Linked DNA regions of Homo sapiens: region 2 is linked to region 1. The links come from fine-mapping of genetic effects on gene expression. A gene starts in region 1. The other region holds a variant in brackets. All regions are shown on one strand. Distances are between the middles of the regions. Region 1 holds the start of PHLDA2 (pleckstrin homology like domain family A member 2). Region 2 overlaps NAP1L4 (nucleosome assembly protein 1 like 4).

Evidence for each region. PIP is the estimated chance that this variant, and not a neighbour inherited with it, causes the effect. A credible set is the group of variants that fine-mapping cannot tell apart.
Region 2: its variant is the best candidate, but not a certain one, in a credible set for the expression of PHLDA2 in whole blood (INTERVAL, PIP 0.71).

The regions. Positions count from the first base shown.
Region 1 is chr11:2,926,085-2,934,413 of GRCh38, forward strand. It overlaps PHLDA2 (pleckstrin homology like domain family A member 2), which reads right to left and starts at 3,336. Exons shown (of 2, transcript NM_003311.4): 1 at 2,812-3,336; 2 at 2,189-2,583. The coding sequence starts at 3,280. The coding sequence ends at 2,822. RefSeq lists enhancers at 2,613-3,221, 3,222-3,831, 3,832-4,440, 7,455-8,067.
Region 2 is chr11:2,973,958-2,982,286 of GRCh38, forward strand. It overlaps NAP1L4 (nucleosome assembly protein 1 like 4), which reads right to left. Exons shown (of 16, transcript NM_005969.4): 2 at 5,250-5,280; 3 at 4,327-4,385; 4 at 2,067-2,166. The coding sequence starts at 5,263. Among named protein-coding and RNA genes, the nearest start is that of NAP1L4, 14 kb to the right of the region's middle. The variant G/A (reference allele first, on the strand shown) is at 3,435.

The DNA of each region.
Region 1 (8,329 bases):
CCCGAACCCCAGAACCGCACCAGACAGTGCCAGCCACCCGAACCCCAGAACCGCACCAGACACTGCCAGCCACCCGAACCCCAGAACCGCACCAGACAGTGCCAGCCACCCGAACCCCAGAACCGCACCAGACACTGCCAGCCACCCGAACCCCAGAACCGCACCAGACACTGCCAGCCACCCGAACCCCAGAACCGCACCAGACACTGCCAGCCACCCGAACCCCAGAACCGTACCAGACACTGCCAGCCACCCGAACCCCAGAACCGTACCAGACACTGCCAGCCACCCGAACCCCAGAACCGTACCAGACACTGCCAGCCACCCGAATCCCAGAACTGCACCAGACACTGCCAGCCACCCGAACCCCAGAACCGCACCAGACACTGCCAGCCACATGAACCCCAGAACTCCTCTGGTGTCCCCTTATCTCAGCCTCTTCATCCTACAGCTCAGTGGCCCCCAACATTTTCCGCACCAGGGACCAGTTTTATGGAAGGCAATTTTTCCACGGATGTGGGTGGGCCAGATGAAACTGTTTCACCCCAGATCATCTGGTATTAGATTCTCATGGGGAGTGCTCAACCTTGATCCCTCTTGTGCACAGTTCACAACAAGGTTCTCGTCCCTGTGAGAATCTACTGCTGCCGCTGATCTGGCGAGAGGTGGAATTCAGGCGGTCATGCTTGCCCCGCTGCTCACCTCCTGCTGTGCGGCCCAGCTACTAACAGGCTATGGACCAGTACCCATCCATGGCCTGGGAACTGGGGGTCCCTTCTATAGCTGATTTGCTGGCCAGGCCATGTACCGTTGCCTTCCCAGCCTCCTGACCACAGCACTTCCCGACCCCTCACCCCCACCCCCTGGTCCTGGGCTCTGGGGAGGAGAACTGGGCATGAGGAGGCCAGCCCAGCCGCTGTGACCGATTGACCCATCTGGAGAGGACAGGCTTTCCACAGCCTCAGCGAGGGTCTGCAGCTGCCCCTGAGACCATGAAGGCCGCCCCTCCTCTCCTCGGGCTGCTTTTAAAAGAAGCTGTTGAAACATGGACTCCCCAAACCTTAGAATTCCACTGTCCTCAGAATTTGAGGAATTCCAAAATTCCTCAAACAAGAAGTGGCCTCAGTGAGCCAAGGGCCATCCACCCTCTTCGCCTAAAGCTCAGGCCGGATCATGCCTATGCTTGAAGCACCCAGGGGCAAGGGCTCTCCTCTTGACCTTGGATATCCATCCAGGTGAGGCTCTGGTGGGCCAGCCAGGAGGCCCAGGAGCCCAGCCAGGCAGCGTCCTTGGCTGCTGTTTTCTGCTTTTTGCAGGAGCCCCTCCCCGATCTGCACAGGGGCTTCACAAATTGCGTTCGGGAGAAACTTCCTTGCAGGCAATAGTTTCTTCTGGACCTAGCACCAAGACTCCTGCGGGCCATGCAGCGAAGGGATAGCACCCTCCCCGCCCTGAGCCCAGACCAGCTACCAGGCTTCGTCGGCCTCCTAGCAACAGAGATTAGGGTCCAATTCTGGTACTTCTCTGCCTCCCCTACTGGCATCCCTCCAACCACGAAGGTTCCAGAAATGAAGGCCCCATTGTGGGGTGAGGAGTCATGCCTGTACCCCTTATCACCTCCTCAGCTTGTTCATCACCAGGAGCCCTTCTGGGTGGGGGACACACTTCCTGAACCCTAACTGTCTCAGACCATCCCTGTCTTTCAAAGAGCACAGCCAGACCGGAGGGCAGAAAGCCGTGGTCAGCTATCTCAGAAAGAGGGGCAGGGATTTGCTGCACTCAGGCCTCTCCACCCCAATGTCCTGGGCCAGTACCTGGAGGTGCAGGGACCTCTGCCTCCTGCCCCACCATCGGAGACAGCCCAGAACTCTCTCCTGTTCCCCCAGAAGCAAAGGCGACCCTGCCCGCCCCACACTGCGGGCACTGGCAAGGAGCGGCTGGCGGCGGGCAGCCAGAGGGCTGAGGGATTCCTTCTGGTCTGACTGCGCGGGTGGTTTGTGGGCAGGAAGTGCTGCTGGGGAAGGTTCCCCCACCACAGGCAGCAGCAGCTCGGACCCAGGGCCCTTGTCCTCCCCAGGTTCAATTCCTCAGGACACACCAAGGAGCAGAAGGTAGCCAGGGTCAAGCCCCAGGGCACTTCCTGGCCTCTGGGGAGGCTGCTTGGAAAAGAGGGTGTGGACCAGGCCCAGCAGATGACACGATTCATTTATTCATTCAAAGCCGGTTCCCAGCGCCTTTCACACCAGCCCCGCAGGACTGGATGAGGGTGTCCTGCCCGCCCATTCCTGGGCCTCCACCCTCCCAGCAGGAGTCTCACTGAGCCACAGCCGGATGGTAGAAAAGCAAACTGGCCAAGTGATTTATTTGCAATGGGCACAGTGATGCAAAAACAAGATATTAAGACTATAAAATATGTGACTACAAAGAACCAGCGAAATAAATACATAGATATTAGATAGTCCAATAACTTAAGGCGCCCGTGCAACGGAGCGAGGATCCGCGCGCACGGGAAGTTCTTCTGCTGCAGGGCTGGAGAGCGCCGGCCACGTCCTAGCCTCGGTCCGACTCGTCCAGCGTATGGCCCTGTGGGGAAAGGACTGGGTCAGAGAGCTGTGCCAGGGCCGGTCCGGGTCCAGCCTGAGGGGCCCCGAGACCCTGACGCGAGGGGGCCAGCGCGATTGCGGGGCGCCGGGTCCCCCAAGGAGGTGCAGCGCCCCCGCCCCGCCGTCTGGGGTTGAAGTGGTTTTTCCCAAAGGCCCCGGTCCCGGCTGTTAGGGCGCAGGGCTCGCCGGGACGCGGGCAGTCACTCACCGCGGCGGGCTCATGGCGTGCGGGGTTTGGGCTGCGGGGATGGCCTGGAGGGCTCCGAGGGCTCGGAGGGTGCGGCGGCCGCGGCAGCCACGGCGTCCTCGGCGGGTGCGGCGGGTGCGGTGCGTTCCTGGCGGCTGCGAAAGTCCTGCAGGGCGCGGCGGTTCTGGAAATCGATGAGCGCCAGCGCGATGGCCGCGTTCCAGCAGCTCTCGCCCGCGCAGCGGAAGTCGATCTCCTTGTGGTCGGTGGTGACGATGGTGAAGTACACGTACTTGCCCGTGCGCTCCACGCAGTCCACCTTGAGGATGGAGTGGAAGCGCAGCTCCTTGGGGCGCGCGCGGGGGCTGGCGGGGAACAGGCTCAGGCGGTCGGAGGTGAGCACCCCGCGCTTCTTCTTCCATAGCTGGAAGAGGCTGTCGCTGCGCTTCTCCAACTCGCCCTCGCGTAGCACCTCGTCGGGGGATTTCATGTCGTGCCGAGCGCGGGACTGGGAGCGGCAATGCGGGCGGTGACGGCGCCGGCTCTGCTCCTCGTGGCCCCGGCGCGGCCTTTATAGCTGCCCCTCCCCGCCCCGCCCCTCCCCGCCCCGCCCCGGCCCTCGGGCCACCCCGCCCGCCTGAGCCCCGCGCGCCCCGGGCCATACCCTCCCCAAGCCCAGCCGTCCGGGCCCGCACCGTCGCGTCCGCGCTCTGGTCGGTCCCCGGCCGTCCCCTCCCATCTCAGAAGCCCGCGCTCCTCTTGCCCCCCGTGCCCCAGCTGTCCGGCCCCGTGGGGTGACTCGAGGTCCCGCCCCGCCCGGGCGCTCGCCCGCACCGTCTCGCAGGCCGGCCCCGCGGAAGAATGCGCTGCAGCCAGCCCTGCCCGCGATGACTCACGCCGGGGAGCCCCGGGAAGCACCCGCGGGCCCGGGGCCGGCCCACCGTGGGGAGACAGCCGGGACCAGACCTTCACCCTCCAGGCGCCCCAAGTCCAGCCCTGCCGCTCTCGGGCTCCCGGGGCAGAAGGAGGGTCGAGGCCCCCTTCCTTACTCCCGAGCCCTGGCCGTTCCGTCCTGTTCGGGGGCCTTTCCCAGGGCCGCCCAGAGACCCTCTCCGAAAGTGGCCCTGCCCTAGCGGACCGAGCTCCTATCTTGCCACCCACGGGCTGCGCCAAGAACGACCACCTCTCTTAGCCTCGGTTTTCGCTTCTGTGAAATGGGAACAGTAACCTTTGCTGGATTAGGGAACACGTGGAAAGGGCTAGACCAGCAACCCATAGAGCTCAGAAAATGGAAGGGGAAGAGGAAGCCCGTTCTCCTCCCTGCGCCCTCGTAGTGTCCCGAACTGGGGTACGGACTGCTCCGACCGCGCCCCCACGACCCGGACCGGAGAGAGGTCCCAGGAGCTGAGGGGTTCGGGCTGGGCCGCGACGCCCGCTCTCTGGGATCAGCCTGGGGGCGAGGGTCGGCGGGGGCGGCTGAGTCATCGCTTTCCAGCTGGGCAGACGGGCGGTTTTATTTACCCTCTTCCTTTAAAGGGTTTAATAGACAGGAAGCGAAAGCCGGCTCTTCCCGGGTTCCCAGGGGTGGGGGTGGAGCCGGCCGAGAGGACCCCAGAGACCCCGGCTACTACTCCACGTCTCCCACCTTCCCGCACCCCTGCCCCCTAGCTGCGCCCTGGGGTGGTTACAGCAGGAAGTCCCAACTCTGGGGTCAGAATTGGCCTCAATGACGGGGCTCACGCAAAATGAAAACGAGAGTCCCCTGATTCAAAATGTATTTAAAATGTCAAGACAGTGGCAGCAGAGCGTAAAACCCAGACCTGGGACCAGCCCTACCTCCACCTGCCCTTCAGGGTCACTGTAAAGGATAAAGAGACGTCCGGCTCAGAGGAGCGCCCCAGACCCGGTTCTGTGAATGGCATGCAGGTAGCAGCTGCCCGGTGGTCCCACCGGTGTGGCCAGAGGACCTGGCAGTGGGCAGGGATGTGGTGTGGAGGGGCAGTGCCGGCAGAGGGCAGGGTTGGGCTGTGCCAGGGTTCTGGCCTGGGAGTGAGACACCTGCCTGGGGCCGGCGGGTCAACACTGCCCCCTACCTGACACCTGTCCTTGCAGCAGGGCTGGGATCCTGTGGTGAGGGAGCAGCAGGTAGGGTGGGTGGGTGAGGGGAGGTCAGCCTTTGGCGGGGAGAGGGGATTCGAGCATTGTTCCGGAGAGGCTGCAGGAAGGATTCGGACTCTGGTGTCCCTTCTTTTGCTTCCAGAGGGCCCTGGGCTGCCGGACAGTGGGACCTGGGCAAGAGGCACCTCTGGGCAGTGGGAGACCAGGAGAAGCGGCCGGGGGCAGAGCGCTCTGTCACTGCGCCAGCCCACAGGTGCCTGGAACACCTCCAGGCCCACCAGCCTGCCTACCCCATTGAGGGGCCAGCCAGTGGAACTTCGGCTCCAGGCAAATCCCCCGACACTCGTGGTTGCTTAAGCACCTACTGTGTGCCTGCAGGCCTGGCTGGTGCTGGGACCCCAGAGGAGGGGAGAGGAATCCCTCTAAACCCCAGGGGCACAGCAGGTACATGAGGATGGGGATAGGGGTCGGGGGTACTGGAGGCCAGGAGGACAGCTTGGAGGACTCTGTGGGGAGGGCGTGCCCTCGAAGATTCCAAGGAGACCTTGAAGGGCCAGTGGTGCCCGTATGCCACCACTGTGCCCAGCCTCCACCTAACCCAGAGAACTCCCCAAAGTGGGCACTCCAGCCCCTGTTCCACAGAAGAGGAAACTGGTTCAGGATGGAGAGGGCCTTGGGGAAGGGACAGAGAACAGGCAGGAGCAGATAAGGGGCTGAGAGAAATGAGGGGGAGGAAGAGGGTTTGGAAACCAGGTGAGGCCAGGTGAGGTGTGCTCCCCCAGCCCCGCCCAGCTCCTCTCTTTGCCTGTACCCCAGTGGCCCTCTCAAGGGAGGCTGGGAAACTCACTCCCCTGGGGGCAGGACTTACAACCCAGGGGTGATGCTCTGACAGGTGGGGCAGGAGCTGGGAGGCCAGGGGGCAGGGTGTGCAGCCGAGATTCAGAGGCCCTGCCCTCCCTAGGGGATTTCCTGCCCACTCAGCCCCTCTCTGCTATTCCCCTCATGGACACTGTGAAGACCTGGGGGGTATGGGGGTGGATGGCCCTTTAGGGGCTGCTGGAAATCAGGTCTGAGCCCTGGAGGCCAGGCCTCCCCAGGCAGCTTCTCTGCCCACAGTCCCTGCCCCAGGGGCTCAGTTGTAGTGGCCCTGGCCTCCCCAGCAGCTGCTAGACACCCTGGGCCCCTGCTCGGCCAAACCAGCCTGAACCTGGTTGCCAATGTGGGGGCTGGAGGGAGCCGACTCCCAAGCCTTACCAGCCCTGGACCAGCAGGTGACTTCAGGAGCCCCCAGGGTGTCTTTATGGACATGGGCAAAAATAAACCACGGCCTTAGGAGGTGAGAGGGGCTTGGAGGACACCATGCCAACTTGGCAGGTACTTGCACACAGGGGCTGCCCCATCCTCTCTGCGTCCACCATCCACCCGAGGGGCTTTACCACCACCACTAACTCACACTGCCGTCTGCCCCTCTGAGCCACCCGCCCTCTGCCAGCCCCCGCTCGGCCTCCCTTGCCTGAGGCCTGAGCCTCACCGCCTCACCTGGTCCCACCTGGGGCTGAGCGGTGCCCCCAGGAGAAGCACTGGCCCCAAGCTGCAGATGCAGAAAGGGTGGCTCAGAGAGGTGCAGTGACTTGTCAAGGTCACCTTTCCAAGGAGGGACCCTATCTCTATCCCCCAGAGCAGGCCTGCCTGAGGGTCCCCTCTGGAGGATGAGGGCTGTGACACTCACTTCCTGGGATGTGGGGGAGGGATGTTGAGGCAGAAGAGTGCTGACACAGGGACCCCACATGAGGGTCTTTTGAGGAATGCCCCTCCTAGAGCCATTTGATAGCCAAGAGCCTGGGAGCTTCTCCAGCACAGCACAGAGATTGGAACCCGGCGTGGATTCGGCCACACCCCATGGGACCTGCTTCTACGAGGGTTCTGGACCACTCACGTGCTGGAGGCGGAGGAACCACCTGCCGGAGAGATGCCAGGGCCAGGCACCGGCAGGAGAGTCCGTGTGGCCCTGCCCCGTGCTAGTTCTGTGCGGTCATTTCTCCCTGTTGAGACTGCTTTCTTGGGTTTGCAGGGAACACTGGGTGGGGGTTTCAGAGAGGTGGTGACTCACCCAGGTTACACAGTGGCCAGTGCGGCCACATCCACAGCTTCCCCGATTCTGTGGCACCCTGTGGCTCGGGGCAGGAAACAGCCCTGATGTTCTGTGACTGCTTCTCAGGATGGGGAGGGGGCTCTGCCTCGAGTTGGTGGTGTCAGGCAGCATCAGTCCAAACCGGGTTTACTGATATTTATCTGAGGGGCCACATCCAGGATTCATGCAGAGCCTGAGCCAAGGGCCCCCACCCCTGGGCAGGCATTGTACAGTCTGGGTGCCCAAACATCTGGCCTGGGACACTGGCTGCCCTGTCCAGCTGCCTGGACCCTTGGCACCGGAGCCCAGCTGTGTGAGGCTGTCAGCAGCTGGAGTAGGATGCGGGCACCTCTCCGAAACTCCCTGAGTGAGGTCACTTCCTTACGGTGACGAGGCCGGGCCCTCCAGGCACTTGCCCAACGAGCCTGGCCATCCTGCCAGCCTGTGAGGAAGCTGCGTGTCACAGGGCCCGGCCCAGTGCCTGGGGCTTGACACCACCCTCTTGTGGGAGGGGTTGCTCAGAGAGAGCCCTGCAGAAAGGCCCACTGCTCCTCAGTCAGGAAGGCCCACCCCTAGCTCCTCTCACCCCCTCCAGGAAGCCCTCTCAGATTGCCAGGGCGCACTCTAAGGCCTGCCTCCTGCCAACCACATACTGCTAGGCCATGGGTCTCCAAGCCTCCGCCCACCTGAGCCTGGGGAGGCTGGGGGAAGACCTAAGCTGCCTGGAGCTGCAGCACCTGAGCAGTGCACTGGTGCCACCTCACCTGAGCCCAACATGGCCCATGTGCCAGGGCCTGTGACTCAGGCTTGCCCTCTATCTGTCTCCTCCCAGCTGCAGCCTGAGGAAAGTGAGAGGCCCCGTGGCATGACCCACCTGGTTTTCAGACACTTGCTGTCAGCCTGATCTTGGCCTTGGAGGGCTGTGTTCTCTGTTGCTGTGTCTCTTCCTGAGCTCTTCCACTGGAGCCTGACAGGCAGGTCCTACCTCACAAGATGTTGGGGATTGATTGAGAAACCAGGAACACCCTTCTCCTTGGCCCCTGATGAGCTCCTGTTTATCCCTCAGTACCCTGCTCAGAAGCTATTATCAGCTCCTTAAATGCAGTGATAATGTTTTATTCTTTGGGAGCCCCAGGGATCAGCCCAGGCACTCAGGAAATGGCTAAAAAAGCATCCTGAGGCCGGGCTCGGTGGCTGACGCCTATGATCCCAGCAAGTTGGGAGGCCGAGGTGAGCAGATTGCTTGAGCCCAGAAGTTTGAGACCAGCCTGGACAACACAGCAAGACCCC
Region 2 (8,329 bases), 48 kb after region 1:
GGGTTTGACCATGTTGCCCAGGCTGGTCTCGAACTCCTGAGCTCAAGCAATCTGCCTGCCTCGGCCTCCCAAAGTGCTAGGATTACAGGTGTGAGCTACCATGCCTGGCTAATTATACAATTTTAAATTAGTTTAATTTTTGAAGCTTTCCAACTGAAGTAAAATGACAAAGGATTTTTTTTTTTAATTATACTTTAAGTTTTAGGGTACAAATGCACAACGTGCAGGTTTGTTACATACGTATGCATGTGCCATGTTGGTGTGCTGCACCCATTAACTCGTCATTTAGACAAAGGATGTTAAACAAACTGGACCCTAGTGTGCCCCCAACAGTCCTTCAATCATTCACACCAACTACACCCAGCCCTCTGCCGGCACTTTTCCTGCAATATGGCTAATATGGAACCACTTCTAGTCCCACATAAACCTGATCCCACTCAAGCAGTTCCTCTCACAGAATGCCACCCCACCAACCCAGTTTCTAAAGCGAGAAAACTAGAAACCATTACTCATTCTCATTCTTGCCACTCCCACTCAGTATCACCCCATCCCATCAATCTAGTCTGCAAAAAAAATAACATCAAAACACCTTGCCCACTAAGTAATCTCTGAGAAGCTTCTAAATGGGCAAAGCAAACTCTGAATGTCACCTTCTAGGCCAGGCGCAGTGGCTCATGCCTATAATCCCAGCACTTTGGGAGGCCAAGGTGGGCAGATCACCTGAGGTCAGGAGCTGGAGATCAGCCTGGCCAACATGGCAAATCCCTGTCTCTACTAAAAATACAAAAACAAAACAAAACAAAACAAACAAAAAAACACGTGCAGCAAATCACCATGGCACATGTATACCTATGTAACAAACCTGAACACTCAGCACATCTACTCCAGAACGTACAGTGAAATAAATAAAACTACAAAAAACTAGCTGGGAGTGGTGGCGTGCACCTGCAATTCCAGCTACTCAGGAGGCTGAGGCAGGAGAATCACTTGAACCCGGGAGGCGGAAGTTGCACTCCAGCCTGGATGACAGAGCAAGAGTCTGTCTCAAAAAATAAAAATAAAAAATAAATGTCCCCTTCTTGTCGTAATAGCCCTGGCAGTCCTGACTGGGGAAACCAGCTGGAAGGTGGGGCCTCCTGGGAGACCAAGCCCTGACCCAATTATAGATGGAAGCCCAGTAACAGCTCATCCCTTTAAAAAAAAAAAAAAAAATTGCCATGCATGGTGGTGCATGCCTATAGTTCCAACTACTCTGGAGGCTGAGGTAGAAGGATTACTTGAGCTCAGGAGTTCAAGGTTACAATGAACTATTACATGCCACTGCACTCCAGCCTGAACAACAGTGAGACTCCAACTCAAAAACCAAAAATTCCTTCCAGAAGTAAGAGAGGTCCTGACAAGAGCCATCCTAGGATTCTAGGATCACCACCCTTATCATTTTCATAGTGCAATACATCTAGCACATAGGCCTCTCTTAAGAAAGCAAAGGTGTCAGCCAGGCACGGTAGCTCACCCGTTATCCCAGCATTTTGAGAGGCTGAGGCGGGAGAACCAATTGAGGCCATGAGTTCAAAACCAGCCTAGGAAATACAGTGAGACCCCATCTTTTTTTTTTTCTTAAAGACAGTCTCACTGTCACCCAGGCTGGAGGGTAGTGAAAACTCATAGGCATGCGGCACTATGCCCAGTTTTTTTTTTTTAAGGTGTTGGTGTCACAGGCTCATGTGGGTAAGTCAGGAAGGAGTGGTTCTCTTAGTTTAACTTAGGAGCCACCAGCTGTCCTCTCCAACTCAGATGATCTGTGAAGTCCTCTAGCCCTCCACAGGATGGCACTGTGCACTTCCTATCAGAACTGACAGGTCACGCTACTCCATCCACCAGGCAAACTCTCAGCCTAGGCACCGGGTAGGGTCACTCCTCTCATATCCCAGTGCCTGTCTCTCATAGACAATGTCTTGGAACGAAAAAAACATTTAATCCTGTTCTGGGGAACTGAAAAGTGGTTTTTCCTTTATTTTCCTTTTGTTTCTCCAAATTGCATGAGACCCTATTCACAGCACACTTACGTTTCGATGTAGCTGGAAGGGGTGTGAGGGACATTGTCAAGTCGCTCCTGTAAAGCTGCCAGAACTCGAGGATTCTGCATCACCTGATCTGTGAGCTTTTCTATGAAGAGTTAAGACCAAACATATTTAAAATATGCCCACCACACACAATAGCCAAGAGTCAAAAATTAGTAACATATCTACTTAGCTTTGCCTAGATTTACATCTACTAATTTCTAAATACATACACCAGTGACTTCTTAAACATGTTTTGAAAATAATTAAAATTTATTTTAAGAGCATTTAACACTCTGGGTTAATCACCTGATGGGTAGTTACAAATTTACTGAATAAACACCTAGAGAGTCCTGGCTCTCACCAGGACTGTGGCTGTTTAAGCACCAGACTTAAACAACTGAGGACATCATTAATGTAAGTTCACATGGTCTACCCCCAAGTCCCATGGTGGTGTCCAGAAGCCACGAACAGAGATGAGATCAGTTCCTCAAAGTAAAAGAGCATCCACTAGCTCCCTTGCTCACTGTGGTGCCATAGACTTCACAGTCCAGGAGAGCCCAAGGCTCACTAGCTCTCTGCCAGCACTGTTCCCTAAGTTTTCTTTGCATGTGCTACTCGCCTCTGCCTTGAATGTCCTTCTGCCCAAACCCACCTCCCTCCAGGAAGCACTTCTGACCATTCCACCCCACTTAGGGCTAACCTACATGTGTAGTGAGCTCACAATACCAAGCTGTTTGTATTTATAAGCCCATTTCCCAATAAACCAATGAATGAGATCCTGACAAGGTAGTGACTGTCCTTTTACCCAGTTGTGACTATGAAGTGGCAGACATCTGGCTCATGACACAGACTCTTAACAATCTCCCTCTTAATGACACAATACAGAAATCCAAACCCAGCGCCCTTCCCTTGCTTAGAGCCAGTACATACCCGAGTATTCTCCCATCCCGAGTATTCTCCCATCCCGAGTATTCTCCCATGATGTGGGTAAGTCAAACACACCAAGCAGGCACTCAATTTTAAACATTCATAATAGAACTGCAAACACAACCACTAACATGAAGCACATGAAGTGTATTTAAGGTACGTAATTTGTATATATAAAACTGTGTACACATGTGTAGTATATAAATACTACATGCATATACAAACACATATGAATGGGTGCTAAAACCTCCGTGTGAAAGTTTGCTGAAGAGGAAGAGGATATCTACACGTGCCTGACAGATTGCTTCCAAGGTGAAAGGACCTTGGTAACAGAGAAGTCTGGCAGGCACTGTCTTAATCATCAATCTCAGTGTCCTTGGGCAGGTGCCGAGCCAACACCCTGTGCCTCCGGAACCAACGACCACTGCATCATGTTACCTGTGT[G/A]CCCTTCTTGCCAAAATGTTTACCCTGAATCTCATCAGGAAGAAACGACTGGGCAAATCCAGACTGTGAGCATTCTATAAGACAACAGTGGCCCAGAGCGCTGATATGTTGATGTATTAATAAAAGATGCAAAAGGTAGGGAGATGACTCTAGAACAAAACAAAACGCATGATCCTTGAATAGGTGCTAGATTCGGGCGTGGGGTAAAAATTGCTGAGAAAACCAGGGAAACAGGAGCATGACTGTCTATTAGAGAATGGTATTGCTCCAGTGTTAAGTTTCTTGGTAATGACATTGTAGAATTGTTTTAGGAAAATAGATATCCACCACTTGCTTTCAAACAGTTTGGAGGGAGTGGGGAGTACAGATATAGTTTTTTTTAATGGTGGAAAAATATCACATCTGTGAATTTATGAACAAAATGACATTCTTAGGATTTGCTTTCCAAAGGAAGGAAAGTAAAGGGTATAGACTTAAAAAAAAAAAAAAAAAATGGCCAGGAGCAGTGGTCTGTGCCTGTAGCCCCAACTACCTGGGAGGCTGCGGCAGGAAACTGCTTGAGCCCAGGAGTCCAAGACCAGCCTGGGTAACACAGCAAGGCTCCATCTCAAAAATAAGAAAAAAGACTGGTCATTTGTTAATCAATACTAAAGCTCACTGATGGTAGCTACAAGAAGGTAGACTGTACTATTACTCTCTTTACTACTGTAGAGTCTGAATTCCTATAATAAATACATCTTTTGTTAATGAGATACTGATTTTTCATTTTAATTACTCTAGCTTTCCTAAAACCACTGCAGTACAGGAATCCTTTACTTGCATTAATAAATGTTTCCAGAGAGAGGAACGTTCCCCATACTGGATGCAAACTCTCCATGTGCAGTGGACTGACCTGTGTTACTTGCATTTTTAGCAGCTTCCACGGAATCTGAAGGAACCCCATCTGAAAAACTAAAACAACAGTATGTTTAAAAAGTATTACTGTAAAGAAAGTTCCAAAGACATAGCACAAATGGACATGTTTCTTATTCAATATATTAAGAGGTATCTGTACAGTGACGTCAGATTTGGGCAGAAGAAAACTACCAATGTGCATGTTATCTCAGAGGCTGTCCTCTCTGCTATAAAAATATTCTACTACGTAACATCCCCTCTCCTCTCCCAAACATAAAGCCCTACAAAGTTCTTATTTCCAACCTTAGCCAAAGCTTCTTAGCTCTCATTTCTACAGCTTCTTTCCTCAAAAAATCTGCTCCCAGCCCTCAAACCAAACCCATCAACCAACGAACATGTTACTGTTTGGTCAGCTGCTCATGTGATCAGAGCAAGGCAGTCTTACCAAGTTAAGACAGTGCCCAAAGTGGCTTTGTAAAATTAGCCACAACAAGTGTAAAATGAGCCATGAAACAGTTTTTAAAGATGCCTGGACACACCTCCCTCACAAAAAATAAACATCAAATAATATACACAACTAAAAGTAACCCTCAATCCACAAAACAAAATCTTCCACTTGATCACTGACAACTACAGACTGTTAGGAGAGTGTCAAAATTACCTAACTTCACCCCAGGGGTGTTAAAGCATGGAGAGCAAAACGATTGCTTTCCATAAAAGATCTGTAGTGTCAATGTCTGAGGCACTGTTCATGTCGGAAGTAATTTCTTTACGTGCTCAAATACATACACAAGAAATGAGCCATCAGCTAGACGCTGAAATGCATTTAACTTTGATTCTAATTATTTATTGAAAAATGGCTTGGCTGTTGCTCACCAACTGAATTTTAAACTCCAATAAACAAAGTCCACTTTGGCTTACCTGTGATCTGCCATCTGAATGTTTTTATCCCCTATAAATTAAAAAGAGTTGTAATAATTATATTCATAAGCAAAAATGTTTGTTCAATATACTTTTTAAACAACGGTTATCTGTGGGATGGAGTCCACTAGAAGGGACAGGAGGGAACTTTCTAGAGTGATGAAAATGTTCTAGATCTTGACTGAGGTTACCTGAGTATATACACTTGTTAAAGCTTATTAAACTATACACTTCAGATCTGTGCATTTCATCACACACAAACTTTACTCATAAAAAAATTTCTCGGCCTGGCGCGGTGGTTCACGCCTGTAATCCAAGCACTTTGGGAGGCCGAGGTGGGTGGGTCACTTGAGCTCAGGAGTTCGAGACCGGCCTGACCAACATGGTGAAACCCCATCTCTACTAAAAATACAAAATTAGCTGAGCGTGGTGGTGCACGCCTGTAATCCCCGCTACTCAGGAGGCTGAGGCAGAAGAATCACTTGAACCCAGGAGGCGGAGGTTGCAGCGAGCGGAGATCATGCCACTGCACTCCAGCCTGGGCAACAAGAGTGAAACTCCATCTAAAAAAAAAAATAAAATAAAATAAAATTATCTTATTGGCACTAAAATAACCAGACTTCAGAATAACATTAATTCTAATTTGCCTTATTTTTTATAATACATTCGGCAACACAAACATACATTAATGATAGCCCAACCATTTTAGAGTAAGTCAAAGCATTTACTGGTGTTTACACTTTCAAATTAACTTATGGGATTATTTTCTAATTGCATTTGTTTATTCCGTATCTTCCATTACTTCTACACTGAGGATGTATTGCTTGTGTAAAAACCTTGTGTAATATACTCAGTATTATTCCACTTTTAAAGATGATTATTTCTATATTGGTAGAATTAGATGACATTGTAACTGAATATTAAGGGTGTGTTCTAGGGCATTTACTTCTTAAATAGAAGAACTTGATATTAATAAAACTAAAAAAAAGTTATCATTTTTTTTGAGACAGGATCTCAGTCACCAAGGCTGCAGTGTAGTGATGCAATCCTGGCTCACTGCAGCCTCAACTTACTGGGCTCAAGCAATCCTCCCATCTCAGCCTCCTGAGTAGCTGGGACAACAGGCGCAGGCCACCATGCCCAGCTAATTTTATTTTTTGTAGAGATAGGGTCTGGCTAAGTTGCCCAGGCTGAGTCCCAAACTCCTGGCCTCAAGAGATCCTCCCACCTCAGCCTACCAAAGTGTTGGGATTACAGGTGTGAGTCAACACGCCTGGCCTATACAATTTCAAAATCTAATCTAAATGCATTTAAAGTAACAGCTAAATGCACAGCTTAAAAAGGTCCTTAAATGTAAAATAATACAGGTGTGGTTACGAAGTTCCTTAAACTCAGATGTGGGAAATACACCTGAGGGCCTCGCTAAACGGTTGTTCCAGCTGAAAACTGGCCAATGTTCATTCTTCAGTACCTGAGCAAAGCCCAAACCACTGAATCACATAGCTTTAGGGTAAAACCAACAACAAAAAAACCCCTCTATATTTAACAAAAACAGTTCTAATTATGATCTATGACTGTCCTGTATTTAACTCAACTACTTTTTTAAAATTTTTATTGTTTAGAAATAAAACGTGCTATTTTTAAGATTCAAAATACAACAAATATTACACATTGTCTTTTTCAAAAAAAATAAATTATGTTTTAATGAAGAAGATGAAAACCAAAAAGAAAAAAAAAATGCAGCAGGCACAGTGGTTCATGCCTATAATCCCAGCACTTTGGGAGGCCAAAGTGGGCAGATTAGTTGAAGCTCAGGAGTTTCAGACCAGCCTGGGCAACATGGGGAAACCTCGTCTCTACAAAAACAAACAAACAAACAAAATTAGCCAGGCGTGCTGGTGTGAACCTGTAGTCCCAGCTACTCAGGAGGCTGAGGCAGGAGAATCGCTCGAGCACAGGAGGCAGAGGTTGCAGTAAGCTGAAATAACACCACTGCACTCCCGCCTGGAAGACACAGTCAGACTGTCTCAAAACAAAAAGAAAAAAAAAAAAATGAGGCTGGACACAGCGGCTGATACCTCTGGTCGCAGCTACTTGAGAGGCTGAGACAGAAGCAACACTCGAGCCCAGGAGTTGGAGGCCTGGCGGCTGCAGTGACCTATGACTGCGCCACTGAACTCCAGCCTGGACAACAGAGCAAGTACCCTGTCTCAAAAAAAAAAAAAAAAAAAAAAAAAAAGGCAATAAACCCTACAATGGCTGGCTATGCTCACCACCATGACCACAGCAGCAACCCAAACCCAGCCCTAGTCAGTGAAGATTTAAAAACCCTTTAACGGAGGCCAGGTGTGGTAGCTCACACCTGTAATCCCAGCACTTTCGGAGGCTGAGGTGGGCGGATCACCTGAAGTGGGGAGTTCGAGACCAGCCTGACCAACATGGAGAAACCCGTCTCTACTAAAAATACAAAATTAGCCGGGCATGGTGGCACACGCCTGTAATCCCAGCTACTCGGGAGGCTGAGGCAGGAGAATCGCTTGAATACAGGAGGCAGAGGTTGCCGTGAGCCAAGATCAAGCCACTGCACTCCAGCCTGGGCAACAAGAGCAAAACTCCGTCTCAAAAACAAACAAAACACCCTTCAATGGTCCCCCGTCACCTTCTGCAGAATACACATTCCTACTGATTCAGGCCCTGTCTACCTCCCCACACTCATTCCCACTCACGCTCCTCCACCATGTTTGCTGCAATCACAGTATTCCTGAGGTTAGTTCCCTTCTCACATATTCTAAATGCAAGGTGTGAGACAGTCAGACTTCATAACAATTGTTTAAGGACAACATTCTAAGAGCTAAAACACCACTTACCAGCTGTTAAAGAATGAGGTGTTTTTTTCTGTTATATACCTTTGATAATGTCTCTATGAACATCTTGGCTTATATGGCTTCCCACTCCCAGTTATCCTTAATTGATATGGCAATAGCAGGACCGCTACAGTAGCATTTCTGGGTCAAAGAGCATGAATGGATTCTGATACATACTGCCAAAACAGTTACACAATAACATCAACTGTAATTTGG